4 linked regions of the Homo sapiens genome follow. The protein of the gene in region 1 interacts with the protein of each later gene in a biochemical or structural test. Each region holds a gene or a part of one and is shown on either strand. Other genes may lie near its edges. The genes, in order: OXSR1, WDR6, WNK4 and WDR3.

Evidence for each region.
Region 2: the proteins of OXSR1 (region 1) and WDR6 interact in a test that uses a peptide from one of them, tested with the Homo sapiens proteins (one study listed by BioGRID).
Region 3: the proteins of OXSR1 (region 1) and WNK4 are reported together in a solved structure, tested with the Homo sapiens proteins (2 studies listed by BioGRID and IntAct, with this or other methods).
Region 4: the proteins of OXSR1 (region 1) and WDR3 interact in a test that uses a peptide from one of them, tested with the Homo sapiens proteins (one study listed by BioGRID).

Annotation. Positions count from the first base shown.
Region 1 is NC_000003.12:38,161,305-38,168,557, forward strand, and holds the start of OXSR1 (serine/threonine-protein kinase OSR1), read left to right. Parts: upstream 1-4,232; 5' UTR 4,233-4,572; coding exon 4,573-4,642; intron 4,643-7,253. UniProt on the Homo sapiens protein: Effector serine/threonine-protein kinase component of the WNK-SPAK/OSR1 kinase cascade, which is involved in various processes, such as ion transport, response to hypertonic stress and blood pressure.
Region 2 is NC_000003.12:49,003,088-49,010,411, forward strand, and holds the start of WDR6 (tRNA (34-2'-O)-methyltransferase regulator WDR6), read left to right. Parts: upstream 1-4,303; 5' UTR 4,304-4,344; coding exon 4,345-4,444; intron 4,445-4,517; exon of another isoform or gene 4,518-4,572; intron 4,573-7,324. Other genes in the region: P4HTM (transmembrane prolyl 4-hydroxylase), read left to right, coding at 1,011-1,173, 1,774-2,083, 2,631-2,780, 2,977-3,100, 3,600-3,820. UniProt on the Homo sapiens protein: Together with methyltransferase FTSJ1, methylates the 2'-O-ribose of nucleotides at position 34 of the tRNA anticodon loop of substrate tRNAs. Required for the correct positioning of the substrate tRNA for methylation.
Region 3 is NC_000017.11:42,783,593-42,790,613, forward strand, and holds part of WNK4 (serine/threonine-protein kinase WNK4), read left to right. Parts: intron 1-344; coding exon 345-565; intron 566-829; coding exon 830-987; intron 988-1,504; coding exon 1,505-1,593; intron 1,594-1,673; coding exon 1,674-1,890; intron 1,891-3,685; coding exon 3,686-3,950; intron 3,951-4,185; coding exon 4,186-4,307; intron 4,308-4,537; coding exon 4,538-4,596; intron 4,597-4,697; coding exon 4,698-4,815; intron 4,816-5,088; coding exon 5,089-5,205; intron 5,206-7,021. UniProt on the Homo sapiens protein: Serine/threonine-protein kinase component of the WNK4-SPAK/OSR1 kinase cascade, which acts as a key regulator of ion transport in the distal nephron and blood pressure.
Region 4 is NC_000001.11:117,924,918-117,932,742, forward strand, and holds the start of WDR3 (WD repeat-containing protein 3), read left to right. Parts: upstream 1-4,821; 5' UTR 4,822-4,865; intron 4,866-7,825. UniProt on the Homo sapiens protein: Part of the small subunit (SSU) processome, first precursor of the small eukaryotic ribosomal subunit.

The sequences.
Region 1 (7,253 bases):
ATATACTATGCATATTTCATATACATATTTCATATACAATGCATATTTCATATACATATTTCATATACAATGCATATTTCATATACATATTTCATATACAATGCATATTTCATATACATATTTCATTTACATAATATAGTTCATATATTATGTATATTTCATTTACATAATATAGTTCATATATTATGTATATTTCATTTACATAATATAGTTCATATATTATGTATATTTCATTTACATAATATAGTTCATATATTATGTATATTTCATATACATGTCATATATTATGTATATTTCATATACATATGTCATATATTATGTATATTTCATATACATATGTCATATATTATGTATATTTCATATACATGTCATATATTATGTATATTTCATATACATATGTCATATATTATGTATATTTCATATACATATGTCATATATTATGTATATTTCATATACATATGTCATATATTATGTATATTTCATATACATATGTCATATATTATGTATATTTCATATACATATGTCATATATTATGTATATTTCATATACATATGTCATATATTATGTATATTTCATATACATATGTCATATATTATGTATATTTCATATACATATGTCATATATTATGTATATTTCATATACATATTTCATATATTATGTATATTTCATATACATATTTCATATATTATGTATATTTCATATACATATTTCATATATTATGTATATTTCATATACATATTTCATATATTATGTAATTTCATATACATATTTCATATATTATGTATATTTCATATACATATTTCATATATTATGTATATTTCATATACATAATATATTTCATATATTATGTATATTTCATATATTATAGATTTCATATATATTATATATTTCATATATTATAGATTTCATATATATTATATATTTCATATATTATAGATTTCATATATATTATATATTTCATATATTATAGATTTCATATATTATATATTTCATATATATTATATATTTCATATATTATAGATTTCATATATATTATAGATTTCATATATATTATAGATTTCATGTTATATATTTCATATATATTATAGATTTCATGTTGTTTCATATATGTTATATATTTCATATTTCATATATATTTATATATAGTATATATACTTCATACATATTGTCTATATTTCATATATAATACATATATAATTTCTTTTTTTCTTTTTTGAGATGGAGTCTCACTCTCTGTCGCTAAGGCTGGAGTGCAGTGGCATGATCTTGGCTCACTACAACCTCTGCCTCCTGGGTTCAAGCGATTCTCCTGCCTCAACCTCCTGAGTAGCTGGGATTACAGGCGCCAGCCACCACGCGTGGCTAATTTTTGTATTTTTAGTAGAGATGGGATTTTACCCTGTTGGCCAGGCTGGTCTCGAACTCCTGACCTCAGGTGATCCACCTGCCTGGGCCTCCCAAAATGCTGGGATTGCAGGTTTGAGTCACCGTGCCAGGGAGAAAAAAACAAAACAAAATAAAACAAAACAAAACAAAAACAAAACTGAAGTATGTCCATGGGTCATACAACTCAACAACCCCAAGCCAAGAATTTCTGGTTTGTAGACCTTTCTATTGGTACAAACCTTGAGGCTAATTCTTACCATCAGATTTAGCTCCTTTCTGATACATTTGATCCCCATCCCTCTCCTCCCTGCAAAAAGAAAAAGGCAGAACATATGGTAAAGAAACTGTCAGTAGTAATGGCTGAAAACCACTTACAGCAAGGCCTGTGCTATGCTTTCTGGAACTGCGGCACCTTTGCTGAGCCTGGACTATTCTATCCTCTAAATGTGCACCTGTTGAAATCATGTTAACTTTGCAAGATCTGGTACAAATGCTACCTTCTTCATGAAACGTTCTCCAATCCAACCAACTAGGTGGAAACCCGCTAGTAGCTTCTAGTTGACTGGTTTCATGGTCAGTTGGACCTCCCACAGCAGAGCTCAGCGCAGAGCTTCCAGTGCTTGGCGGTGTTTTAGAACCAAACTAAGGTCTACTTGCCCAGTGCAGTGACATTAGATTGCCACACGGAGGTTTTGCTGCAGTAGAAAGGCAGGGCGCCTAGCAAGAGGGGAGAATTAGTGTAGCTCAAGCTTAATATATATATAAATATACATTATATATAATACATATTTCATAAACTTATGAAATACATACTGGGGACCTAAACTTCCTGGCGTGAGCCACCGCGCCCAGCCAAGCATTCTTAAAGATAGGGGTAATTTCGGAAAAGAAGAAGTTACAGGTAAAGTCATAAATCAATACACAGAGGTTATACATTGGTTTGACCTAAAAAGGGGGGACATCTCCAAGCAGGAGCCCACAGGTCATAGGTGGATTCAAAGATTTTCTGATTTGCGATTGATAAAAGAGGTGAAGCTTTGTCTAAAAATTTCGGATCAGTAGAAAAGAATGTTAGCTACAGCTTGTGGGCATGACCTTCTTCAGGAAGAAGAAACTTAGAGAAAAAACAAACCACCAGTCAGAGTTCAGTCCTTAGCTCCCCATTCTCTGAGGTCTATGTGCCAGCAGATCCATTTGGTGGGGGTCTGGGTTTCTAAAAAACAACTCAGGGACATGTGTTGATGTTATCTTTAGTTTTTATAGGGAACCAAACATCCAGTTATTTTAGTTTCTTTGGCTAATGTTTAAAGTTATTACTGCCCTCTTGCTTATCAAGGGGTTCATTAACTTTTCAAGGCTAGCTAAGTGCCGGGAATTTCTCTTGAAGTAACTCAAGATTTTCCTTTATTTCCATGGTTGAGGGCCTGCAGGCCCTAAAAGGGGTCCCTGCTCCGTCTCAGCTGGGCCTAGGTGAAGGTCTCTTCCTTTTTCTGAGACGGTGTCTCCGTCTGTTGCCCAGACTGGAGTGCAGTGGCATGCTCTCGGGTCACTGCAACCTTCGCCTCCTGCTTCAGCCTCCCTAGTAGCTGGGATTACAGGCGCCAGCCACCACGCCCAGCGATTTTTCTGTATTTTAGTAGAGAGGGAGTTTCACCATGTTGGTCAGGATGGTCTCGAACTCCTGACCTCAGGTGGTCCGCCCGCCTCCGCCTCCCAAAGTGTTGGGATTACAGGCGTGAGCCACCGCACCCGGCCTAAGGTCTCTTCCTTAAAGACTGCCGTTGGACTGAAAGGTGTCCAACCTAGAACAGTTTCGCACCTAGCCCTATCCCTGTTGGATGCTCATTATTTTTTAAAATCCAATTTACCAAGCGTGTTCAGTCTTCAGCTCGCTAATTTCTCTAACGGCCGTACGTAGTCAAACTGAGAAAACTGTTCAGTGGGGGCGACAAAAGCCAACGCCCGTGAGACAACCCCCAAATCCGTGGGTCGATCTCACTTGTTTAATACCCCAAGCCCTGTCCGGGGGGAAGAAAGACAACCTCCCGAGTCCCTCAAGGCAGGTGCTTATTTGAGCTTCAGATCTAAAGCTGCGAATGGACAGAACCCGCCCAGTGCAGGGTGGACCCGCGAGAGACAGCGCCGCGACAAGCGTTAGAGAGAACGTCCGCCTTGAAAAAAATGTCACCAGGCAAACTTCCAGTTTCACTCCGACCAGTGGCCCAAGGCCTTTTATCCTAGTTGGCAGTGGTCCACACCCAAAGGCTACCCCACCCAGCCGCTCCCTCAGGGTTTCTCCACACCCTGTAGAGCCTTTCGCACGTCTCGAGGGTGTGACGGTTACGCCGTGACGTCACTCCAGAGGAAGTGGTAAGACGAGCGCGGTAACGGAGCTCTTGAAGGGCTGCAGCCCTAACACGGAGAAGCGCGCTAAGAGCCTGGAGGCGGGACCAATTTATGACTGACGTCTACCCACACCCATTGCTTTTCTGATTCCTTCTCAAACAAACCAATGAATGCGACGACGGAGACAGCAGCGTGCCCCAGGCGCTAGAAGTGGCTCTGCCCCTTCTACTTTGCTGCCCTTTGGTCGCCATGCTTAGTGTGGCTACTGCCTCTGTGCTACTTGAGGCTCTCCTACGGCTTTTCGATGCCTTCGATGAACCTCTACCTAAGCACTTCTTCCCTTTCACCGCGAACTCCTACCTTCTCGGGTTTCTAGCTTGCTCACTTTACATCCAGCCACACTGGAGATGGCGGCCGGAGGCGGGCCCGAGGTGGGGCGTGACCAGCGCAGTGACGTCAGCGCGCTGCGTGTCGGCAGGTGGAGGAAGAGGGGAAAGTTTGGCCCGTGCGTGGGGCTGGGGTGGAGGGCGGGACAGAGGGGCTGGGCCCAGGCAAAGCTTCTGTCGCTGCTGCTGCGGAGGCCGAGGACAGGACGTGGGCTGGGCCGGGCAGTGCCGGACTCGGAGGAGCAGGAGGCGAGGTCCGCCGGAGCTCTGAGCCCCCGCTGCTCTGCCGCGCGGTGACCCCGCGCCCCGGCGCCGTCCGACCCGTGGCTGTTCCGAGACGATTGGTGGGGGCGCGGCGGCGGCGGCGGCGGCTGTTGGGGGTGGGGAGACGCGCGGCGAGGAGACGAGCGAGGTCAGCGAGTTTGAGGGAGGACCGCGAGCCGCTGCCGCCGTCATGTCCGAGGACTCGAGCGCCCTGCCCTGGTCCATCAACAGGGACGATTACGAGCTGCAGGAGGTGATCGGTGAGAGCAGGCGCTGCGGAGGGGGGAGGCGCGGCGCTGGGAGGCGGGGGACACGGGAACGTGGGGAGCCGCGGGAGCTCGGGGAGCGCAGCCCTCATAGGAATTCGTGGGGCGCTTGTGGGGCTGGGGGCTTGTAGGACGCTTGTGTCGAGGAGCGCGTGTGAGACGGGAAGGGGGTTTTGAGGCGCGCGCCTGTGAGGTGGCGTGGGGTGGGGTGAGGCTTGAGGGGGCTCAGGAGAGATTTGTGTACAGGATTCTCAAATGTGTGGACAGGAGCGGCCCATGTGTCTTGTAGAGAAAGAAAGTGCAGGTGTGGGACAGGCCTTTCCGAGGCTGTGTGAGAAATGGGATCTTGAAGTGGGCACAGCCATCGATTTCTGGGATTGTGGGATAGATAGGGAGCTTTAAGTTTTTCCTCCATCCGTGCTGGGGCGAACTGGGGATCCTCCAGGTGAAGCTGCAGGAACCGCGCTGAGCAACCGAGACCCAACTTACGACTCCTTCCAACTGACTTTCCAGTCGGGGAGGTAGACATTAAATAAGAAGACAAAAAGAAGTAAGAAGGGCTGGGCGTGGTGGCTCACGCCTGTAATCCCACCACTTTGGGAGGCCGAGGCGGGCGGATCACGAGGTCGGGGGTTCGAGACCAGCCTGGCCAATATGGTGAAACCCCGTCTCTACTAAAAATACAAAAATTAGTTGGGTGTGGTGGTGCGCGCCTGTAATCCCAGCTACTCGGGAGGCTGAGGCAGAAGAATCCTTGAACCCGGGAGGCGGAGCTTGCAGTGAGCTGAGATCGCGCCACTGCACTCCAGCCTGGGCGACAAACCCTGACTCTGACTCAAAAAAAAAAAAAAAAAAAAAAAAATTTGAAGAGGCTTTGGCAAGTGCCATGAAGGAGATAAACAAGATGTTCTGATAGAGAATAACCTGGAGATCTACTTAGGGTGATTTCAAGGAAAATTCTTTTTCTGAGGCGATAACATTTCAGTTGAGCCCTGAAGCATGAGAAGTGAGGATTAAGAGCCTCGGGAAGATTTTTCCTTACAGAGGGATATAGAGATGCAGTGGCCTTGAGTAAGGGAAGAGCTTGATTTGTTTTAGGACCTGAAGGAAGGCTGGCAAGGATAGAGAGGGAAGGGAGGAGCCAGATCTTAGGGATCTTCTCAGCTTTGGTACAGATTTTGGAATTTTAAGTATCACTGGAGGCCCTCAAATAGTGCCTTGACGTGATCCGATAAATTGGGCTGGTGTGTGAAAAGATTTGAAGGGGGTCCAGGAATACCAGTTGGCAGAGACCAAAACTTGCACATAGATTGTAATTCTCACAGAAGCCTAGGGATTGGGAGGAGGCTGGGGACTGGGGATGAGGGGAGTATTTGTTGGACAACAATAACCCAGTGACCTTGGAAATCAAAATGTTTAGCTATACAGGCTCAATCCAACGGACATGAGCAGACACCTGTGTATTGGAGGAAGGCGAATTATCTGCTTTGCCAGCATCCTGCCCTAAAATTAGTTTTATAACAAAGACCAACTGAAGACTTCCTAGCTGCCTTGGGGGTGTCAGTGTTTATTTCACTGTGGGTTTAAAAAGAACTTCGTGAAATAATTTTTGTTTTTACTTGCCTCTTGTTTTAAGACAATCTGGGCTTAAAGCAATATTGGTTCGTATAGGAAAAACAAAAACAAAACAAAACAACTCGGACTAAATAAAGACATCACATCTTTGCTTAAGCCACTTCATGGGCCTGTGTCCTTGCTACATATTGGGTCTTTGACATGTATTCGTTGGTTCTAAAGACAGCTAGTTCCCGGTCTGGACTGATTGCTTCTGGTTCCCCCAGTCAGAGTTTCATATTGAAGGAAAGGATTAAATGGAAGATTCCAAAATGATGTCAGAGAAGTAAAGAGGAGGTTCCCTATCATCATTTTAAAAGAAGAGTTTTTTTTTTTTTTTTCTGGTAGTGTATCCATCTTTCTAGGGTGAAGAGGATGGTTGTAGTCATTCTCAAAGCCTTTGCTGTTAAGGTGGCAGAGAATTTCAGAGTTGCAAAGGCGCTAGAGATTTCGTGATTTGTTAATTTGGTGTCCTCAGACCCATAGGATGTCTGTGAGTGGGCAAAAGGGAGTCTCTCAGTCTTCTGGATAGGGTTAGTGTTCCTCACATTCACAAAGTGGTCCATGGTTTTTAAAAGGTTAGGAACTCCAATGTGATTTGACCATCTTTCATAGATTTAAAACAACTTTACTGAGGTATAATTTAATATAAAATTCACCCATTTTAAGTGTAACATTTAGTGGTTTTTAGTAAATTCCCTGTGTCGTACAACTATCACCATAATCCAGTTTTAGAATATTTCCATCATCCCCGTGAGATCTCTTGTGCTTTCTTACGAGTTAATCCCTTTTTCCACCTCCAGCCTTAGACAACCACAAATCTACTTTTTGTCTCTATGGACTTGCCTTTTTTGGACATTTATATAAATGGGATCATATAACATGTGGTCTTTCATGTTTGGTTTCTTCCACTTAGCATAAATATTTTTTCATTTAAAAAAACAATTTTGAGATATAATTTACGTACCATAAGATTTACCTGATTAAAATG
Region 2 (7,324 bases), about 11 Mb from region 1:
GCTGCTACCTGTGCTAACTGCTGGGGAGGGGTGGGCAGGGAAGCTGTCATGCAAGTGGTGCCCCCTCTGGTAATAACTCTCAGGAGGTTTCTGAGGTGTGGTCATCACCCTCATGCCCAAATTCTGGACCAAGAGAGGAAGATACAGCAGTTAGAAAGGACTTGGAACAGTGGCTTTGCGGCTGGTGAACCAGAGTGAAGAATCTGGCCGTGACCTGTGGCTGGATGGCTGCCACACTGCTATAGGCCCCAGAACAGAGGTGGTGACAGTCTCACAGCCCTTGAATGTCCCCCACCCTCAGAGGAATCTGGGCCAAAGAGTGGAAGGTGATGTCCTTGGGTCAGCCAGAATAACATGGAGCAAAGATACCAACTACTCTTCCAGAACCCCAAGAGGGTAGAACCCCTGCTTAATGGTTTGAGCAGGGACAGTGGAGAATGTTCTCATGAGAGGGGGTGGCCTGACTTTCGTTGCTAAGGTGGGCTGGTAACGCAGTAGGCAGGGCTGGCGAAGTAGGTTCCACCCAGGATGAAACCTGGGGTCATGAGGAACTCCCCGGGGGCTGGCCCTGCTTGCACCCTGGCGTATGTATGTAAGGCCCTGGATGAGGCCCAGCACTGCCTGCTCTCTCCTCACCCTCCACAGGCCGGAGAGTGGCCACCACTCTATATAGCCAGGCTGGAAGGCCAGGGTCCTGGCCATATGGCTCAAGCTTCCTTTGGAGAACCTTCTCTGGCCACTCTAATAGGGGGTGGGCCTCTTTCTTCTTAGGGCCAAATTAGGGCTTAAACTGAGAAAAGGAACTGCTCTGGGTCTTCCTGTAAGGCCTGATGTGACAGAAACCAGGTTCATCTGACCCAAAAGTCCAGGTGGGGGACAAGTGTACAAGGCCCCTCAGTGCCTGAGGTCAGGGGCTGCTGCTGCCTTTGGGGTAGGTAGGGAAGTGCAGCCTGCCACTGTTGCCTCCCAATATGGGCTTGGTGGGCATTGATGGTGGGTGCCCTGTGCAGGAGTGCTGAGTCTGCAGGAGTTCTCCAACATGGACCTTCGGGACTTCCACAAGTACATGAGGAGCCACAAGGCAGAGTCCAGTGAGCTGGTGCGGAACAGCCACCATACCTGGCTCTACCAGGGTGAGGGTGCCCACCACATCATGCGTGCCATCCGCCAGAGGTGAGCACCTGAAGCTGTTCTCACTGGAGCAGGGGGAGAAGACTGGGCAGGGCCTCCACAGAAGTCCTTGTCTGGGGCCAAGAGGACAGAATGGATTAACCCATTTGGGATTAAGTTCCATTTGTTAGACCAGGATTGGGACCCACTGAAAGACAGGCAATTAACAAAGGCAAATTAGCCCTCCTTGCAGGCACACAATGGGCAACTGGGGTTAGATAGAGATTGAGCACTTCTTTCTGATTAGATAAATGACCTCTTATCTTTGACCCCTTATCTGACCCCGTCACAGCAGGAAAAGGGTTTTTAAATAAACAACTTTCTTCCAGGGAGGAGGACCTCAGGACTCCCCGCCCCCTTTATTTAGTGGAAATGTCAACATTTCCACATAGCAGGTGTCTCTGTCTTTGGCATCTGAGGGAGAAGGATCATCATGAGTAACCCCCTCCTGCTCTTACAGGGCCAGTCTGAGATGGCTTAAGGGACTTCCAGGGGAGGTGGGTAGGGGCAAAGCTTGTGGCAGGCCTAGGGTCCACCTTGGCCAGCTCCTTCAGATCACCACCTTGCCTGGGGCTGCCCAGCCAAATGCCTGCTGCCCACCAGGGTGCTGCGCCTCACTCGCCTGTCGCCTGAGATCGTGGAGCTCAGCGAGCCGCTGCAGGTTGTTCGATATGGTGAGGGGGGCCACTACCATGCCCACGTGGACAGTGGGCCTGTGTACCCAGAGACCATCTGCTCCCATACCAAGCTGGTAGCCAACGAGTCTGTACCCTTCGAGACCTCCTGCCGGCAAGTATCTCCCAACTGGGGGCTGCCTTCAATCCTCAGACCAGGAACACCCATGACACAGGCACAGCCCTGCACTGTGGGCGTGCCCCTTGGCATGGGGCCAGGAGATCACTGGGTTATCCCGGTTAGTGATGCCCTCACCTCTCCCCACAAGTTGTTTACCCAATGGCTGGAAAGGGGTGGCTACTGGTCATCGTGACCACTGGAGTCAACACAGACTGATGTACCCACAGACACCAAAACTTGCCCCCTGAGTTCTGAAGCAAGGGGCAAGGCTGGGCCCCTAGCTTGTCCTGCCCATTCCTCCAGGTGTTGATCTTGATTCCACTTAGAGAAGCTGAAGCTGTGCCTCCCTCCCCTGTCAAGCCAGTTCTTTCCTCTTCAGGTGGCTGTTCTGGCCCAGCCCCTTCCCATCCCCAAGGAGCCCTTCAGCGCGCCCTGTTGCTTCTGCTAGCCTACCTTTCCCTGCCAGGCCCTTGCTCAGGGCCATGGCATTTAACTAAGTGCACCTGTGATCTTGGCCAAAAAACCATTGCAACTCACAGTAAGAGACTGGGTTTCGGGGAAGGAGGGGCTAGGGACATTTTGGCACTGGCCTGCCCTATTGTCTCCCATCCTAGTCTGTCCTGGTCCCTGGCAACAGGAACCTGGGCAGCTTATCCTGCCCACAGGTAAGCCCCTGGGAGCATCCACAACTGGGGACCTGCTCAGTGCCCCCCCTGCCTTACAGCTACATGACAGTGCTGTTTTATTTGAACAACGTCACTGGTGGGGGCGAGACTGTTTTCCCTGTAGCAGATAACAGAACCTACGATGAAATGGTAAGGGTCAACTGGGCTATTACTCTTGTGGGCTGGCAGGGGCTTAGACAAGTGAAGTACACACCTCTCCAGGTCTAAGGATGTGGGCCCAAATTATTCCTTGGGCATATCTGGTTGGTTTCCCTTTGGTCACCCTTGGCTGGCCTGGCCATAGAGTGGGGACAGGTTGAACACCCCACCACCCTGCTGCCCACAGAGTCTGATTCAGGATGACGTGGACCTCCGTGACACACGGAGGCACTGTGACAAGGGAAACCTGCGTGTCAAGCCCCAACAGGGCACAGCAGTCTTCTGGTACAACTACCTGCCTGATGGGCAAGGTGAGGGCCTATGGCCAGGCCTGGGGGGGGTGCCCTGAGTACAGCTTCCCTTTACCCAGCCCCCGTCTGCCACAATGGAGGGCTGTTTCTGGCTGCTTTCCAAATAGTTTTCTGCTCCTGGTGCCTCCCAAAGGCCATCCTTAGTGACTTTAGCAGACTGCCCCAGGACCTGTACTGCTTATTGGGTTATATCCATCCCTATCATTCCCTGATGCCCCAGCCTTCCTACTCCCTGGGGCTTGGGACACATGTCCCTTGCTAACCCAGGATGGGAAGGGATATGGACAGGCCCAACAGCAAGAAAGCTGGTTTCAGAGGGCCAGTAGTGTTGACTATACATTAGTGGGCTGAGATGAGGAGCCTCCAAGGAAGCTTTAGGTCTGGGTGTTTGCTACACAAGGAATGCATAGCTGGACCCACCTTGGTCATGCTCTTGGTGCCTATGAGGCCAAGCTCTGGCCAGCCCAGCCTAGGATCTCACGTCACCCTCCTCTTCTAGGTTGGGTGGGTGACGTAGACGACTACTCGCTGCACGGGGGCTGCCTGGTCACGCGCGGCACCAAGTGGATTGCCAACAACTGGATTAATGTGGACCCCAGCCGAGCGCGGCAAGCGCTGTTCCAACAGGAGATGGCCCGCCTTGCCCGAGAAGGGGGCACCGACTCACAGCCCGAGTGGGCTCTGGACCGGGCCTACCGCGATGCGCGCGTGGAACTCTGAGGGAAGAGTTAGCCCCGGTTCCCAGCCGCGGGTCGCCAGTTGCCCAAGATCAGGGGTCCGGCTGTCCTTCTGTCCTGCTGCAGACTAAAGGTCTGGCCAATGTCTTGCCCCACCCCGCCAGCCGCGATACGGCGCAGTTCCTATATTCATGTTATTTATTGTGTACTGACTCCATCTGCCCCGTCAAATAAAAAACCACAAGGTTCGAGCCGCCGGGCCCGACAAACTCCGGGTCGGCGAAACAGAGTCCGCGATAGGTGCAGCGGGCTGGCAGCTGGGAGCGCCCCGCAAGCGTCACGTGAGGGGGCGAGGGGCGGGATGCCCCTCCGCGGGCCCCGCCAATGATGAGCTGGATTGCGTGGGACGAAGGGTCGTCATTGGACAACCGCCGCGGGCGCCCTGGTCTCTGCTACCTGTAGCTGAGGGCGCTGTTGATGGGCAGCGCGGCGCGCTGGGAAGGCTCGTTCTCGCGAGAGTTCAGCTCCCTTCTTAGCCGTGGCTGCCTCAGCACCTCGAGGATCGACATGGACGCTCTCGAGGACTACGTTTGGCCGCGGGCAACCTCGGAGCTTATACTCCTCCCAGTGACGGGTCTGGAGTGCGTGGGGGACCGGCTGTTGGCGGGTGAGGCTTGGCTTGAGGCACGCCTGGTGGAAAGGGGGAAAGAAACAGCGCCTCCCAGGGGCGGTGCCACAGGGACAAAAGGGGTGCCCTGAGGAGAAGGACGGGCAGCAGGTTGAGGCCGATCGGAGGTGGGAAGGGAGCCCCGGAGATGGCGGGGACGAGGGCCAACCTGAAGAGGGCGGGGCCCGAGAGACAAAGCTGATGTGGCCGCCGCGGCGCTTCATAAACTTCAGCCCGCGTGGAAAGGGCGGGTGGAACCGCGGGAGGGTGCAGGGGAACGCGGCCGCGCGGAGGCGGAGGCGGAGGCCCGGGAGCTGAGGGTTGAGGGGGTGTGCTCCCTTCTAGGAGATGGGCGGGGGCTTGGCCTCTCCGAAGGAGACGGGGCCGAGCTGGGGGGGGCGGAGGGAGGAGGAGGAGGAGGAGGCGGAGGCGGCCCCGGCCCCTCAGGGGGTGTGGCCTCTTGGGGAAGGCGGGGCCGGGAGAGGGCAAGGGTGTGGCCTCTCGAGGGCGGGATGAGTCTCTTCCCCCTAAGGTGGGGGTGAAGATCCTCTGAGGAGGGTGGCGTCGCGGAAAACGGCGGATAAGACCTTTCCGAGTAGGGGGCGGTGCCCGGGGAAGCAGGGGCTGAGACCCCCTCCTGAGATGGTTGAGGTCCAGGAAATCAGGTGTGGAGGTCCCTCCAAGGAGAACCGGGTCGCAAAGGACAGGCGAGGCCTGGGACCTGAGGTGTCAGAGTCCAGGCTGGTCTCGAACAGTCATTACATGAAGCCACTAATGACCCATGTTGGTGCTGCTGAGTTGTATAAGGGTCCTGAGGCAGGGCCTTGGCGGTCAGGCCTTGAGTGAGTTGCCACCAGTCCTAAGAGGGTGTGTGTATGGGGTGGGGATGATCCAGTTTTGATCTGGTGTGGGGGTTCTTGGAGCGCGGAGTTCCTACCGCGAGCTAAACTCCTAAGGCTCCTTGAGGGGGAACAACGAAGCAGAAACTCAAAGAACCACAAGAGTGAACTAGGAAAAGGGGTGAGTTCCTGGCAAGAGGGTAAGCATGCCAAAGGCCTTGAGGCTGGAAGAATCTGTCATTTTGGGGGAAGGAGGGAATTCTTGTGAAGTTAGAGCAGGAATGGAGTCTGGGAGGAAAGGAAGCTGGACAAGCGAGCAGAGGCCACATTGTTTCAGGCCTTGATCTGACTTTATCCCTAAGGGCAGTGGGGAGAACCTATTGAAGGGTTTTAAGGTGGGGAATAACTTGGGAAATGCAGTTTAAGAAGCTCTGCAAGTGAATTCACCTACTTCTGTGGCTTCCAAAGTGACTTTTATATAGCTACAATTCTGTGTGTGTGTGTTTTTTGTTTGTTTGTTTGTTTGTTTTTGAGACAGTCTTCCTCTGTCACCCAGGCTGGAGTGCAGTGGCACGGTCTCGGCTCCCTGCAACCTCCGCCTCCCAGGTTCAAGTGATTCTCCTGCCTCAGCCTCCGGAGTAGCTGGGATTACAGGTGCCCACCACCATGCCCAGCTAATTGTTGTATTTTTAGTAGAGATGGGGCCTCACCATGTTGGCCAGGCTGGTCTCAAACTCCTGACCTCAAGTGATTCGCCTGCCTCAGCCCCCCAAATTGCTGGAATTATAGGCATGAGCCACCATACCCGGCCTCTCTAGCCTCTTCCTGAGCTCTTCATTTCCTGTTCCATCCACCATACTCAATGCTCTTGCCCATCTCAGGGCAATCATACATGCTGTTTTCTCCACCAAGAAAGCTGCAAACCCTCCCATTGCTCCCCACCCCCCCCCCCCCGCCCCAACATTTCCCAGTCCCCCTCTTCCGCCTCCTTTCCTCTGGCTAACTGCTGCTTATCCTTGAATCCTAACTCTAAATATTGTGTCCTCAAGTTGGCCTCCCCTTACACTCACCCAGTCTTGTTAGATTAGACCAGGGTTTTCTCAATCTTGCCTCGATTGACCTTTTAGACCAGATAATTCTTTGTTGGAATGCTGTTTGTGCATTGTAGGATGTTTAGCATCATCCCTGGCCTTACTTGCCAGTAGCACAACCCCTGGAGACAGCCGTACGTGTCTCCAGCTATTGCTAGATGTCTCCTGTGGGGAAAGTTGCCCCCTGTGGAGAACCACTGGATTAGACTTTCTCATTTTACATCTTTTATTTTCTTTTTGCATTGTCAAAATCCTTCTCATTTTATTTTACTTTTTTTTTTTTTGAGACAGAGTCTTGCTCTATTGCTCAGGGTGGAGTGCAGTGGTGCAATCTCAGGTCACTGCAACTTCCACCTCTTGGGCTCAAGAGATCCTCTCACCTCAGCCTCCCAAGTAGCTGGGACTACAGGCATGCGCCATTATGCCCAGCTCATTTGTATAATTTTTTTAGAGGTGGAGTTTTGCCCTGTTGCCCAGGCTGGTCTCAAACTCCTGGGCTTAAGCGAGCCTCCTGCCTTCCAAAGTGCTGGGATTATCGGTGTGAGCCACTGTGCCAGGCCCCATCTCTATTTTTTTTTTAATTAAAAAAAAAAAGTGAGGTGAGGAGGAGGCTCTGAGTTTGAGAAATTTGTGGTTGAAGTGAACATCAAGCGTGACTGATGAGGCTGGGCGCGGTGGCTCACGCCTGTATTCCCAGCACTTTGGGAGGCCGAGGTGGGCGGATCATGAGGTCAGGAGATCGAGACCATCCTGGCTAACACAGTGAAACCCCGTCTCTACTAAAAATACAAAAAATTAGCCGGGCATGGTGGCGGATGCCTGTAGTCCCAGCTACTTGGGAGGCTGAGGCAGGAGGATGGCGTAAACCTGGGAGGCAGAGCTTGTAGTGAGCCAAGATCGCGCCACAGCACTCCAGCTTGGGCGGCAGAGTGAGACTTTGTCTCAAAAAA
Region 3 (7,021 bases), on another chromosome or scaffold:
TTGAGCTCCTACTCATCATTCAAGATGCAACACAAAAGTATTTCCTCTCCGAAGCTCTCCCTCATGCTTGGGGCAGTTAGTCATCCCTTCCTGCGCTCCCACAGCACCTTGGCCGAGGCCCTATCTATCAATTTACTTCCCAACCCGTTTGGTAACGTCATGTCTATCCACCATGCCCCCTGACTCAGTTTCTCCCTGGGGCCGGGCAGACATAGGCTAGGAGAATGCTGGCAGAAGATGCGGAGGCGGCAGCAGGGTGCGGCAGGGGGGAACTTCCCAGTGGGGGGCTCCTTCCCGGAGGACGTGTCCCCCCACCAGGACTCTGGCTATGCGCCCTCCCCCAGGTACCTGAGGCGGTTCCGGGAGATGAAGCCGCGGGTCCTTCAGCGCTGGAGCCGCCAAATCCTGCGGGGACTTCATTTCCTACACTCCCGGGTTCCTCCCATCCTGCACCGGGATCTCAAGTGCGACAATGTCTTTATCACGGGACCTACTGGCTCTGTCAAAATCGGGGACCTGGGCCTGGCCACGCTCAAGCGCGCCTCCTTTGCCAAGAGTGTCATCGGTGCGTCTCTCCAGGAGGGTCCATGCCATTCCTTCCTCCCCCACCTCAGAAGAGAACCTGGGGACTCCCTCCCCTCAGCAAGGGCCTTCAAGGTCCACAAAACTACCAGACGACAGGGAAGCTGAGGAGACCTATGGCACCCACCTCAACCCCACTGTGGGCCGGGGTCACTTGCACTCGCAGGGTTGCCTGGGGCTGCCTAGCCCAGTGGGAAGGACGAGGCCAGAGTGCCCAGCAATCTGATCCCTGCTGTGGACCCTACAGGGACCCCGGAATTCATGGCCCCCGAGATGTACGAGGAAAAGTACGATGAGGCCGTGGACGTGTACGCGTTCGGCATGTGCATGCTGGAGATGGCCACCTCTGAGTACCCGTACTCCGAGTGCCAGAATGCCGCGCAAATCTACCGCAAGGTCACTTCGGTGAGAGGGATGGGGCTGGCGGGAAAGGCAATTCCAGGGCCACTTCCCCTTTTCCTGCGCCGGCCAGCCCGCAGTCAATGCCCTTTGCCTGCACGAAAACAGGCTAGACACAGAGTCGCCTTGGTGAACACAGAAGGATATTGAGTGCACACGCGCCCCCACCAGTACACGCTATTTAGAATAATAATATGTGTGGTGCTCCCAAGAGTTCACAAATGATTTCGCATCCCATCTCTCATCCAATCCTTCCAGCTGCCCTGTGAGGTGAGCGGGGCAAATGTTCCACCCTGCGATTTACAGATGAACAAACAGCGGGAGACTTGTTCAAGATCACACTGTAAATACTTGGGGGGGGGGCGGGGATTAGGATTTGAAATCACATCTTCCAGTAGCAGTCAGGCTTTTGCAACTGCACGCGCAGCTGCCTAAGGAGGGAGTGGAGTAAGGGGTGGGGGGTGGTGTCAAGCCGAGAGCTGGGGATCAGAGGACGGGAGGTGTCATGCAACCCCTTCCCCAGGGCAGAAAGCCGAACAGCTTCCACAAGGTGAAGATACCCGAGGTGAAGGAGATCATTGAAGGCTGCATCCGCACGGATAAGAACGAGAGGTGGGGGTGAAAGGGCAGAGCGTGGGTAGAATAGGGCCGCGGGCCGCGGCGGGCTCGGCTCACCCACGCGTCACCCTCAGGTTCACCATCCAGGACCTCCTGGCCCACGCCTTCTTCCGCGAGGAGCGCGGTGTGCACGTGGAACTAGCGGAGGAGGACGACGGCGAGAAGCCGGGCCTCAAGCTCTGGCTGCGCATGGAGGACGCGCGGCGCGGGGGGCGCCCACGGGACAACCAGGCCATCGAGTTCCTGTTCCAGCTGGGCCGGGACGCGGCCGAGGAGGTGGCACAGGAGATGGTGAGCGGAGGACAGACTGTGCTGCCACTGGACGTGTAAAGGACATTGACTCGAGGGGACAGTGCAACAGGGATGGGGCGCAGGAGGGGTGGCAGCGATGGGGGCGGGGCACCTCACCCCTCTCAAAATCTCCTGCAGCGTCTCCCTACCTCTCCAGCCCTAACTTACCCGCACGCACACCCAGTTTTCCTTTACAGAGGGAGCCCTGGGTCCTCCAGCGTCCCTGCTTTACCTCCAGCTGATCTGTTCTTCCTGGGATGCCCTTCTTGCCAATTCATCTTTTCCTTCTTTCCTCCCTCCCCATTTTTCTTTTTCTTTTTCTTCCAATATGATCAGAACCATCGATTTCGGGAAGCCGTCCCCTTTGGAGTCAAACTTAAATGCTTCTTTCCACTTCAGCATGTTCTCGGTTACAGCACTCCCCACTATCGGTCCTGTCTTAAACCTGAATAAGTTCCTATCTTTCTTCTCCACTAGACTATAAACTCCCTGAGGGCAGAGACTGTGTTTTATCGATTCTTCTATCCCTGGCAGTGCTTGGCACATAGTAAGAGCTCATTAATAGCCTACATCTGTACATGGCTTAAAGCACTTTCACATGCATTTGATCTTTGCTACCCATCCTGCATAGGGGGCAGTTTTATCTCAACTTGTTGATGAGGAAATGGAAATTCAGAGAGGTTGAATACCTTGTCCAGGGCCCCAAGTAAGTAAGTGGAAGAGCTGGATTGAAACTGAGGTGGTTCAGATTTTAAATCAGGTTACCCTTCCCCACCTCCTTTACTCATTCAGCAAAGCTTGCGGCTAAAAGGAATGAGGAGGTGATGAATGGAAGCTGGTAGAAGGGGAGAGGCATAAGATGCAAGGGCAGAAGCTTGGGGGCTGGCTTAGGAAGTCCTGAAGGGAGTATGGGATTCTTTTTTTGGGAGTAATGGAGTCTCACTCTGTCACCCAGGCTGGAGTGCAGTGGCGCTATCTCAGCTCATTGCAACCTCCGCCTCCTGGGTTCAAGCAATTCTCCTGCCTCCGCCTCCTGTGTAGCTGGGATTACAGGCAAAAGCCACAACGCCCAGCTAATTTTTGTATTTTTAGTAGGAACGGGGTTTCACCATGTTGGCCAGGCTGGTCTCGAACTCCTGACCTCAAGTGACCCACTAGTCTTGGCCTCCCAAATTGCTGGGATTACAGGTGTGAGCCACCGTGCCTGGCCGAGTATGGGATTCTTAATAGAGACATGACAGTTGCAAGGGTGGAGACCACCTACGGTAGGTCAAGAATCTGAGAATGTGTTAGAAATTTAGAGCAGGTCTCCATAGCACGGCCCAACCTGACCTGAGATCAAATCTTGATCCATTGCTGACAAGGGATTCTTGGCCTTGGCACTGTTGACATGTTTGTTTTAGGGACTGTCCTGTGCATTGTAGGATGTTGAGAAGAACCCCTGGCTTCCGCTCACTAGATTCAGTAGCACCTACCCTCCAGTTGTGGCAACTAAAAATGTCTCTAGATAGTGCCAAACATCTCTTCTTCCCATTGGAAACCACTGACTTACTGTATAACTATGAACCAGCTACTTCATTAATCTCTAAAAATCGAATGGTAAGATTTATCCCACAAGGTTGTTTGGAGGATCTAGTGATGATAATGTAAGGAGCTGCCAGTTAACAGACATAGTGGGTAATCAGTAAGTGTTGGTTTTCTTCCTCCCATATCCTGGAGTTCCCAAGAAGGCGTCCTGATGGATCTTTGATAGGGGGTCCCAAGCTGTGTTCCTCATCCCCCACCCCAATTCCAGGTGGCTCTGGGCTTGGTCTGTGAAGCCGATTACCAGCCAGTGGCCCGTGCAGTACGTGAACGGGTTGCTGCCATCCAGCGAAAGCGTGAGAAGCTGCGTAAAGCAAGGGAATTGGAGGCACTCCCACCAGAGCCAGGACCTCCACCAGCAACTGTGCCCATGGCCCCCGGTCCCCCCAGTGTCTTCCCCCCTGAGCCTGAGGAGCCAGAGGCAGACCAGCACCAGCCCTTCCTTTTCCGCCACGCCAGCTACTCATCTACCACTTGTAAGTCACCCCTGATCTTGAGACGTAGGTCCCAGAACACCTTGGCCTCTGCCCCCTACCCAGAAGTTCACCCCCACAGCAGTCACTTACCCTGCCTTCCACCTCTAGCCATGAAGCTCCCTCCAGGAAGGAACTCTCCCACAGCTCCAGGCCCCTCCTTGCTTAGGCAGGCCCCATCCTCTGCCACTATTCCCTTTTATTTCCCCTTTTTTTGATCCTCTCCCTCCCCAACCAGCGGATTGCGAGACTGATGGCTACCTCAGCTCCTCCGGCTTCCTGGATGCCTCAGACCCTGCCCTTCAGCCCCCTGGGGGGGTGCCATCCAGCCTGGCTGAGTCCCATCTCTGCCTGCCCTCGGTGAGAGGGGGTCGCATGGGGGGCTCCCAGCCATTCCAAGCCTATGACCTATCTCCCTCCTTGTGAAACCCAATCTCATGATCCAGTCCCATGTCCCTGGAAATCCACCATTCTTGCCCTCCTCTTCCCTAATTCCATCTCCCTAATATCCTCCCAGCATCCTTGACACCATCTCCCTAGATCTCAACAGTTATCTTCCCCTGACCTCATGAACCCTTATCCTGTTTCAGGCTTTTGCCCTATCCATTCCACGTTCTGGCCCTGGAAGTGACTTTTCCCCCGGGGACAGGTATGTTCTGGTACAAGTTGGGGTGCCAGGGTGAGACACCTGGGGCACTGGGGTCCCAGTGTCTGCTCTGACAGTCATTCTCTCTCCTTTCTCTTTAACAGCTATGCCTCAGATGCAGCTTCAGGCCTTAGCGATGTGGGAGAAGGGATGGGACAAATGAGGAGACCCCCAGGGAGGAATCTCCGGCGCAGACCCCGATCCCGGCTGCGGGTCACTAGTGTAAGGATGGAGTACAGGAGATAGAGAGTAACCTACAGGGCCAGGAGGGAAGTGTCAGGGGGAGGCGGGGGAGGTCACCCAGAAAACGGGAGAAGCAGTGTATGACTAGTACTCAAGAGGCGGCCAGTCTGGTTTCTAATACCAGACTTTAGAGGTGGGGTCTACTTATCTCCAAGTCCATTGTGGCTGCTGTCACTTGGCTGGGGTAGGGTGGAGACACAGCATGATGAAGAGGGCTTGACCTTCTCCCCTCTGCTGACTTTGAATCTGAAGGTCTCAGACCAGAATGACAGAGTGGTTGAGTGCCAGCTACAGACCCATAACAGCAAGATGGTGACCTTCCGATTTGATCTGGATGGGGACAGCCCGGAAGAGATTGCAGCTGCCATGGTGAGGGGGAGAGAGATGAGGACAGAGTGTTTGGATCTGGAACAAGAGTCTCCTTCCTGATGTCCGCTGGGGCTGAAACCCACTGATCCGACAGCAAGCATTTTTAAATCTCTGGTTGACACTTAGCACAGTAACGCTGAAGATGTCTCAGCCCTTGTTTTGGGGGAGATTTCTGTTTATCCAGTGAGGTTTGGCTTCTCAGCTGGAGCAATTTGAGACTCACATTGACCGGGTACACACAAGTGCTACGTATAAGTGCCTGGTAGATGTGCAATACTGTGGCTGTAGGTGAAGGATGGACTGGGCAGCAGGGGCAATGAGCTTACCCAGGATCTTGGCAAATGGGCAAGAAAGGCTGTGAAGGGTGGAAAGGCCATGAAGGGTGTCCCTGTGCAGGGACAGCATAAGCAAAGGCATTCCAAGTAGAGAGTGTCTTGGAATATGGGGCTGGGAGGGCTTCATGAGGAAACCACTATCACTGGAAGTAAAGATTCCTATAGGAGAGTTGTGGGGAGTGAAGCCGGGTAGGTAGAGTGGGCCCAGATTGTAGAATAGACAATGTTAAGAGTTAGGCAGAGGCCAGGCGTGGTGGCTCACACCTGTAATCCCAGCACTTTGGGAGGCCGAGGCCGAGGCAGGCAGATCACCCGAGGTCAGGAGTTCAAGACCAGCTTGGCCAACATGGTGAAACCCCGTCTCTACTAAAAAATACAAAAATTAGCTGGGTGTGGTGGCGCATGCCTGTAGTCCCAGCTACTTGGGAGGCTGAGGCAGGAGAATTGCTTGAACCCGGGAGGCGGAGGTTGCAGTGAGCCGAGATCACACCATTGCACTCCAGCCTGGGCGACAAGAGTGAGATTCTGTCTAAAAATAAATAAATAAATAAATAAATAAATAAATAAATAAATAAATAGAGAGGCAGAGCAGGCTAGGTCCAGTGGCTCACACCTGTAATCCCAGCACTTTGGGTGGATGAAGTAGGAGGATTGCTTGAGCCCAGGGGTTCAAGACCACCCTGGTAATATAATGAGACCCTATCTCTACAAAAAATTTAAAAAATTAGCCGTGTGTGGCGGCACATGCCTGTCATCCCAACTACTTGGGAGGCTGAGGTGGGAGGATCACTTGAGCCTGGGAGGTCAAGGCTGCAGTGAGCTTTGATCACGCCACTGCACTCCAGCCTGGAAGACAGAGTGAACTTTGTCTCAAAAAAAAACAAAAACAAAAAAACAAAAAGGCACAGTGTAACGTGACAGTAGGCTTTATGAAAATCATCTGCCATGGGATGTGGAAGGGGGAAGGGAAAATACCTGGGAGGTAGACCCAGGAAGCCATCTGTGGACAAAGGAGAGAGTGGCTTATGGGAGGGAAGAGGAGAAAGGGTGAATCTGAGGGTTGTTTCGGGAAAATAAGTTACTCTGTAATCCAGTAACCTATTGACGTAGTAGAGAACATAGTACATAGTAGATGCTCAATAAATATTTGCTGAGTTGATATGATTGGGAGTTAGGGAGAAGGGATGTCAAGGACAACTTGTAGGCCACCAAAGGAGAGTAGGAGAGTAGGCCACCAAAGGAGAGAGGAAATTAGAAATGAAAGAAGGTTTTTTTTAAGGAGGTCATGATGAGCTTGAGTGAAGAAGGGACAGCCAAGACAAGACCCTCCATAGCCATGGATATGGGTCAGGCAGGGCTGGAGAGATGTGGATGGAGGAGTAGTCAGTACAGAGTTGAGAGTGAAGGGAGATGAGCCGGCAAAGCCAGAGACACAGAGGGTTGCAGAGTGTGTCTCAGCGCATACCACCAGTTCTGGAGTG
Region 4 (7,825 bases), on another chromosome or scaffold:
CATGCTCAATGGAATGACGCTTGACAAAAGTTCATAATTTCAAAAAATTACCTGCAGATTTTTTATGACAATGAGTCATTGTCATAAAAAAGCTCTTAGCTATAATCTAAAAACAAATCCATTAAACACAAACACAGTTTTCAGTTTGTAAACTTGAATGCCAACTTTCAGGACAAAATTGCTTTTTTAAGATAACTTTTCTTTCTGACTCTAAGTAATACATGCTTACAGAACATTTGAAAAATACCAAATCGGTTGGACGCAGTGGCTCACACCTGTAATCCCAGCAGTTTGGGAGGCTGAGGCGGGGAGATCACTTGAGCCCAGGAGTTCAAGACCAGCTTGGGCAACATAGTGAGACCCCATTTCTACAAGAATACAAAAAACTAGCCAGGTGTGGTGGCATGCATCTGTAGTCCCAGCTACTCAGGTGGCTGAGGTAGGAGGATTGCTTGAGCCCAGGAGGCAGAGATTGCAGTGAGCTGAGATCACACCACTGCACTCCAGCACGGTGACAGAGCAAAACCCTATCTCAAAAAAGAAACAAAACAAAAAGAAGGAAAAGAAACCAAAATTAAGGGGGAGGAAAAAATTCCTCAACTTTTGATGTAGTTACTACCTTTTTCTGTGATAGGTAAAATCATACTGGTACAATTTTGAATCCAGTTTCTTTAGTATTTTAAGGTAAATATTTCCACACACAATTACACAGTGAGGCAGAGACAGTATGGTTCGATGTGAGAATTTGGACTCTGTTATCATAGGGTCTGAGTTTGGATCCAGGACCATCATCTAATAGTTTTGTTATCTTTGACTCTGAACCAGTTTTTTAATTTCTAAAATAAGGGTAATTCTCCTAAGATTATTGTGAGCATTCAATGAGATAACTGGTGTCAAAACTGCATAGGAGAACAATTACCTTAACTTCCCTCCAACTCAAAATCATTCACTGTTTCCAACTTCCAAGTGACGATTTGAGGGTATATTCCACACGTTTAAGCCCACCAAATCACTTTAATTTAATCAATTTCCTTCATTTGACCATTTCTCCTCTTAAGAGAGTGTTACAACATAAATTCTCCTTTTACAATTACATCTTGGCTTTTTCCTTCCTCTCAATCCTCCTGTTCTCAAAAAGGTTTTCCTCCTTTATTTCTTCTACTTCATTTCTTCTTCAGAATACTAAACTCCTTTTTACCACTTGACTTTTTAAGAGTAATTTGTTTTGTAGCTCTACTTCCTCTTCGTACATTTGCCCAACCTACTGCAGTTTTGCTTCCGCTCTACAGCTATACGAAAACTACTCTATTCAACAATAACTTCCCAAATGTCAAATCCAAGAATTAATCCAATTTTATCCACATTTATTACTGATCATTTCCTCCTCAAAACTCTATTATCTTCTTTGACATTATACCCTGGTGGTTCTCCTATATCCCTGATCATACCTGGTCAGTAGAGTTTGTTGGATCCTTTTCCTAGCTTTTAAGTAATTGTGACCCACAAGATATTGGATGTTAAATAAGTAAAAGTAATGCTCATAGCTCTTATTGTAGGACAAAATTTAATGGCATTTTATGAAGTGTCACAGTATTTAACAGAGGTTGAATTCTTTTTCAACTCCATCTCTAAACAGAATTGATGTTTCTCACCAAAAAGAGGTTTGAATCTCTCCTTCCCCTAAACACATATACACCTTAGTAATACATACAGTAAATGGAGCCACAAACCCAAGCTAGGCAGAAAAACCTGATCCCTGAGAGAACAGTGGTTTTTAACATTCTCAAGGTCACAGGCCCCTTTGAGAATCACATGAAAGATACAGATCCTTTCACTCCCCAGAATATTTGTATATGAGCTCATACAAGTAGATTTGTAAATAAATTTGAATTAGAATCTCAGTGATAGAATGCAAACAGATTGCTTAAGTGACAAAGGGAGGAGGAGAAGGCTCCTACACCCAGTAATCTATAGCCACAGCCAGAATTTTTGCTAACATTAAAGGAGAGCAAGACTGTCCACTGAAAATCAGTTGATCAGCTCTGTACTTTTAATAAGTTCATAAACAAACACTAAGCCCTAGTTAAAAAAAAAAAGGCTCTTGAAGCAAGACATTAATTTCCAAGGATCAAAAAGTCTACATGGGACAAACAGAAGATTCCATAATGAATCAAATCTATTTCCATATCCATATGATCTTCAGTACTTTAGTGAAGAGGACCTAAAGACAAAGATAACCCACTATGTATCTTTTATAATTCAAATGGTGCAGTGTAAACAGCTCTCATTACACTGTAACTTGTTTTTTTTTTCCTCAAATCCTGTCATCTTTTAGTTTAAGAAGTCCTTTAAATACTGCTTAATATGAATAATTGGATTGGCTAGAGAGATCAGATTTTATTGTTCAAAACTGGGCAAAATTGGGCATAATACCTTGGATCACCATCTCAAAAAAAACTTTTTTTCTGGATAGAAAGAAAATGATATCATTTAAGAGAGAAAAATGGTAACTTTTAACCTGTTTACCTGTCTTTCAAAATGCTTACATTGATCAGACCAGCCTGGATAACAACAGTACAAAGAGAGCTGGTGCATGCACTTGACCGCCATTAATTACCGGGTTTACCATTCTTTATGACTTTGTATTTCAATATTTAACAGTTCAGAGTACATGAGGATATGTGTGCATACCATACTTAAGAATCATTTTATGCCACCATCCAACACCATACTTAAGAATCATTTTATGCCATCAGAAAGACATTTTTTAAAAAAGATTTTCAGATTGGAAGACTAACTGAAGTAGTCAAATATGTCAACAATAAATACAGTATAACAAGAACATTCCTAAGCTTGTCAATGGCTTGGGTCAAATTTAACATCATAATTCAAAAGCACCCAAAGAACATATCCTAACAGTAAATTAGTAGTACCCCTTCATATTAAATGAACTGCACTATGTTTTAATTGTAAATATTGATATATTAGGCATTTTGAAACTTAAATAAGGAAGTAGAGTTACATCCTTGAAACATTGTATAAGGAATTTTGTAAGATGCATTACCTTACCACTCACAGTTGCTCTGATACCAACTCTTATTAAAATCATTTTTTTCCATCTGTGGTTGTCCCATCCCATAATATTTAATAATATTAAGATAGTTTTTTAAGAAAAGGTAAAATCATGACTCATTCAAATATAAAACCAAACCCGTGTTCAAGATTTTATTTAACTCAAAATGGAACCAGGCAGAGAAGATAAAGAAAATCCCAGAATTAGACACCTTAGAGCAGGAATATTGAAATAAATGTGCAAAAGGAGGCAAAACTTCCACTGAATCTCTGAGAGAATTCGCATGTCTTGACAATAATTATTTAGCATTGATGTCACTTACCTAGTTTACGTAACTGAAAAATAGCTTTTTTAGAATTAGTTATTCCAAGGGGTGTTAAGATAGAATCTAAACTATGTAGTTTTCCATTGAAGCACACACTTCTCCCCATAATAATATAATGCACAGCACCTGTCAGGGATATTAACCATACATACCCACTCAAATGCTCCCTTTCCCACCAAGCTTATTAAAATAATAGTTTGTGGCCACAATTTCTTCCCTTCTCATTTATCCAATACACAGCAATCTTGTTTCAAAACTCCTATGCTGCTACAGCTGTCCACAGTCTCATCATACGCATTCTTTGCTATTGCAATTTTCTTGAATATGGAAGATTAGCTGAACATGCATTAAGCTCAGGAAACTCTAAAGAAAATCAGATAATGTAGACAAAAGTCTAATTTCTAGGCTGGCTGCAGATACCTTGTTCAAGAAGCGCCGGCAGGATCTTCTTTTGTACAGCTATGTTAGCTTTAATTTTGCACAGCTCTAGACATCAGAACTCATTTCTAAACACTTCTATGCAGCTCAAGAATAAAAGTAGCAGAAATGCAAGAGAGAAAAGCTAATTCCCACTTGGTGAAAGAGCACTTAAGTCTCAGTGAGCAAACAAGGAGGAGTCAGCCTTGGTCACTTCCCCCTCAAGCGGCCAGAGAGCGGAAACACAAAGCCAGGCCAGTGTCACTCCAGGGATTGCGGGAACCTAGACAACGCACCATCCTGGGCTCAGCGTCTACCCACCCCTCACCCGAGGTGCTCTCGGTTCCGTAGAATGTCCAGTCCACAGGAACGGCAACACGGACTTGTCTTTGGGACTACAACCAGCAAGAGCTCCCGCCTGCCCCATTTCACCTGCACCCTAGGGCGCCCGCCTCCTTGGCTACAGCACCACTGTTCCTAGTGCCCGCCGACTGCCCACCCTTTCACTTCTCGTAGAGACGGCGTCCCCGACAACGCCTCGGGAAAGAACCTAACCAACATGCGAGGAAGTGGCGCCAGGCTCGTTCTTCAAGAGAAGTGACAGAACTAACCCTCAGCCTGCAATCCTGACCAGGGCCGAGTCCCGAGCGCCTCGGACCGCGCCCCCGGCCCTCTCCGCCCCGCCTTCCCTCCCGGCCTCAGTCCCTCCTCTCACAGCACTCTGGTGGTCCCATCCGGGCGGCGGGCGGCACGGATCAGGCTCCTGGTAGAAGGCGGCCGAGCGACATCTCCGGCGACCCTCAGCAGGAGCGCGCCGAGTACGGCGAGTCAAAGTCCCAGGAGACTGGAGTGACCAGCTGCAAATGCTCTGGGCTGCGAAACACCGGCTTCCGCTCCTGGCCAGAGCTCACCAATCAGCGCCCGGCTTTCTCCGTCATTTCCTCCTAGAAGGCAAAGGGAACCTCTGGCGGAAGAGGCTTCCGGAACGGACCCGGAAGGGGCAGGTCTTGTGGGCGGGTCCAATCGGCTGGGAGCCTCGTGGAGGCTGAGGTGAGTCCTGGAGGTGCGTGGTTGGGGCGGAGAGCATTATCTGCGGCTCCGATTTTGCAGATTCTGGCTGAGGCGTTCGTGATGTCAGCAGCAGCCGAGACGGGCGTGTTAAAGGCCGGTTGCTAGGGCTGGGGGAACTCAGGTAACTACGGGCGTCCCCACAGCAGTACTTGGAAGCCCCTCAGCTACTCGGCGCGGTTGCGGGTGCTGAGCAGAGCTGCCTGACCGTGCGTGTGCACGGGCTGGCCTGAGGATGATATGACCGTGTGTTCGGTGTGTGGAACCCTCCGTCACCCTCCCCTGACCGAAGACTCGTTTAGGAATGTGTGGCAGGTCTGTTGCCACGGTCCAGGCCTTCAGTGCATCTTGGAAACATCGTTTTGGGGGCTGTAGGTTAGGAAGCGGAGATCATGGGGTCTCGGAAGAAGGTTTGGTCGTGAACTGTCAGAAAGGAGGCGAAAGCTGTGCACGTGGAACAAAGTGAACAGTGCAAGTTGTATGGGAGGTAGTTTAAATATCGAGGCGATGAAAAAAGGCTGCTAGAATTGGGCTTACTCGAAAGGAAGTGGGCCTCAGAAGATAATATTAGTTAAAAGAAGTAGAGGAGAACATGGATGTTATTCTAAGTAAAACGAATAATATGAAGAATACAAGGTCGCGGGACGAGGAAGGAAACTAGCCAGCCTGACAGGAAGGTTTATTCGAGAAATACGGGGGTTAGATAGGATGAGTTTTTGGAAACTGGCAAACGATTTAGCCTTTTCAAGGCTTTAGGATAGGGAAAGCTCATTTGAAAAGATTAGTCGGTAGTATTATGACGTTTAAATGAAAAGAGTGAAAAACATGGAGGCGGAGGTGCTAGGTGGAAAATCAGTGCAGTAATCCAGTGATAAAGAGCTGGAACTGAAAGTGCTGGAGAGAAAGGGATCCTGTTTCAGAGTAACAGTCAGGTGGAATTGACTAAAGAGAAAGAGGCAAAGAGAAGCAGTTTAGCATAGTGGTTAAAAGCAGAAATTTTGGAGTTAGACTGGCTGGATTGGGATCTGGCTTTGGCAATTAGCTGCTAAATGACTTTGAGTTAGCAATTTGCCATCTCTGGGTCTGAGTTCCTTGTCTGTAAAATAGAGATAGGAAGAGTGACTTCCCTTGTGGTGTTATTGTGGAGAATTTGTTTATTTATTTTTAGAGACAGAGTCTCACTGTCACCCAGGCTGGAGTGCAGTGGCGTGATCATAGCTCACTGCAACCTCGAACTTCTGGACTCAAGTGATCTTTCTGCCTCAGCCTCCCCGAGTGCGTCACCATGCCTGGTTAATTTTTTAAAAAATGTTTTGTAGAGATAGGTTCTTGCTGTGTTGCCTATGTTGGTCTGAAACTCTTGACTCCTAGGCCTTGGCCTCCCAAAGTGCTGGCATTACAGGCATGAGCCACCATACCAGGTCCTTATGGATAATTTTTTTATGCTCATATTTACAATGTGCTAGAGGCTTTTCTAAGTGCTTTGCATATGTTAGCTCGGTTTCATTAATTGCTGTATGTAATTAAACAATTGCATAATGTTATCAGTTACTATAGCGTAAGCACTCTCTAAATCTTGGCTGCTATAATAATATTTTTTTATTAATAATTCAAAGGTTATTAAATGGTTTTGAGCCTGAAGAGCTGGGAAAATTGTGTCTTAGTGTCAGAAGAAAAGAGAGGGGTACCAGAAGTAAGGTAGGCTTGGTTATAGACATGTTAAATGTGAAACTATAAGGTATTCAAGTGGAGATGTTCAGTAAATATTGGAAACTCTATAATTAGTATTCATGTAGGTGGAAAGGACTGGAAATAGACAGATGGGAGTCCCTGGACCTAGGCATGCTATATGAATTCTCCAAGGAAAACACTGTAGAAGGAGGTGGTAGATGGCCAAAGACAGACAAACATAAGGAACAACTACAGAGTCTGGAGGAATAAGAGGAATTGGGAAAGAATTAATCAAATGGCCTAGGCTAAGAGCATTATCACCATGTTAATATTATCTTTCCTTGATTTTAAATTGGCTTTATGTTGGTTCCTGTGAGAGAAGCAATGAGGCCAGTAAGTGATTATTACCAGAAAATATTATCAGAGAGTTGAGATTGAATTTTTTTTGTGTTAGACTAAAACAGCATTTGATAATTAGAAAGACCCTGTAGAGTTAAGCCAACCAACCAAAGAAACAAAAAACAATAGCAAAAAGAAACAGCTCCTCATAAAAGACTGTAACTTCTTTATTTTTGTGTGTTTTAAGTTGCATGGGTGTTTTTTGGGGATACTTTTTACTCTTCCATGTAAAGAACAGATGGGACTGATTTGTTATCTCCTTCATTCACCTCTTGTCCCTTTTATAAATAACCAGTGGATTATGGATTTTCAGTGAATTTAATAAAAGTGCAGAAATTATGGCATCTTTCCAAAAATAGTGTGCCAAGTTGCTCAACCATTTTCTATGCCAAGGGTAAGTGGCTGCTCTGATTTTGAAATGAAGGACAGACTTTCATGTACTAGTAGTTCTCAAAGTGTGGTCCAAGAACTGCAATAGCAGCATCACTTGGAAACTTGTTAGAAATGAAAAATTCTAGGCCCTACCTCAGACTTATGAAATCAGAAACAGGTGCTGGGAGAAGAGATGAGATGGTGTTTTCTAGCAATGTTTTCATAAGCCCTCCAGGTGATTTGGATGTATACTAGAGTTAGAGAACCACTGTACAAGAAGGTAAGTACCATGAGGTTAGGGATTTTGCCTTGTTAATAGTGTATTTCCAGTGTCTAGAATGGTGCCTGTCTAATTGGTAGGTTTTCAATAGATATTCATTGAAAAATATGTTCAGTCTCAGACTGCCAATCTCTGTGTAAAAGCTTTGATGCTGGTTTAATGGGCAGAAGTAAATCAGTTTAGCTGCATTGAGCCTATAATGTCAGATATGCATGAGGTG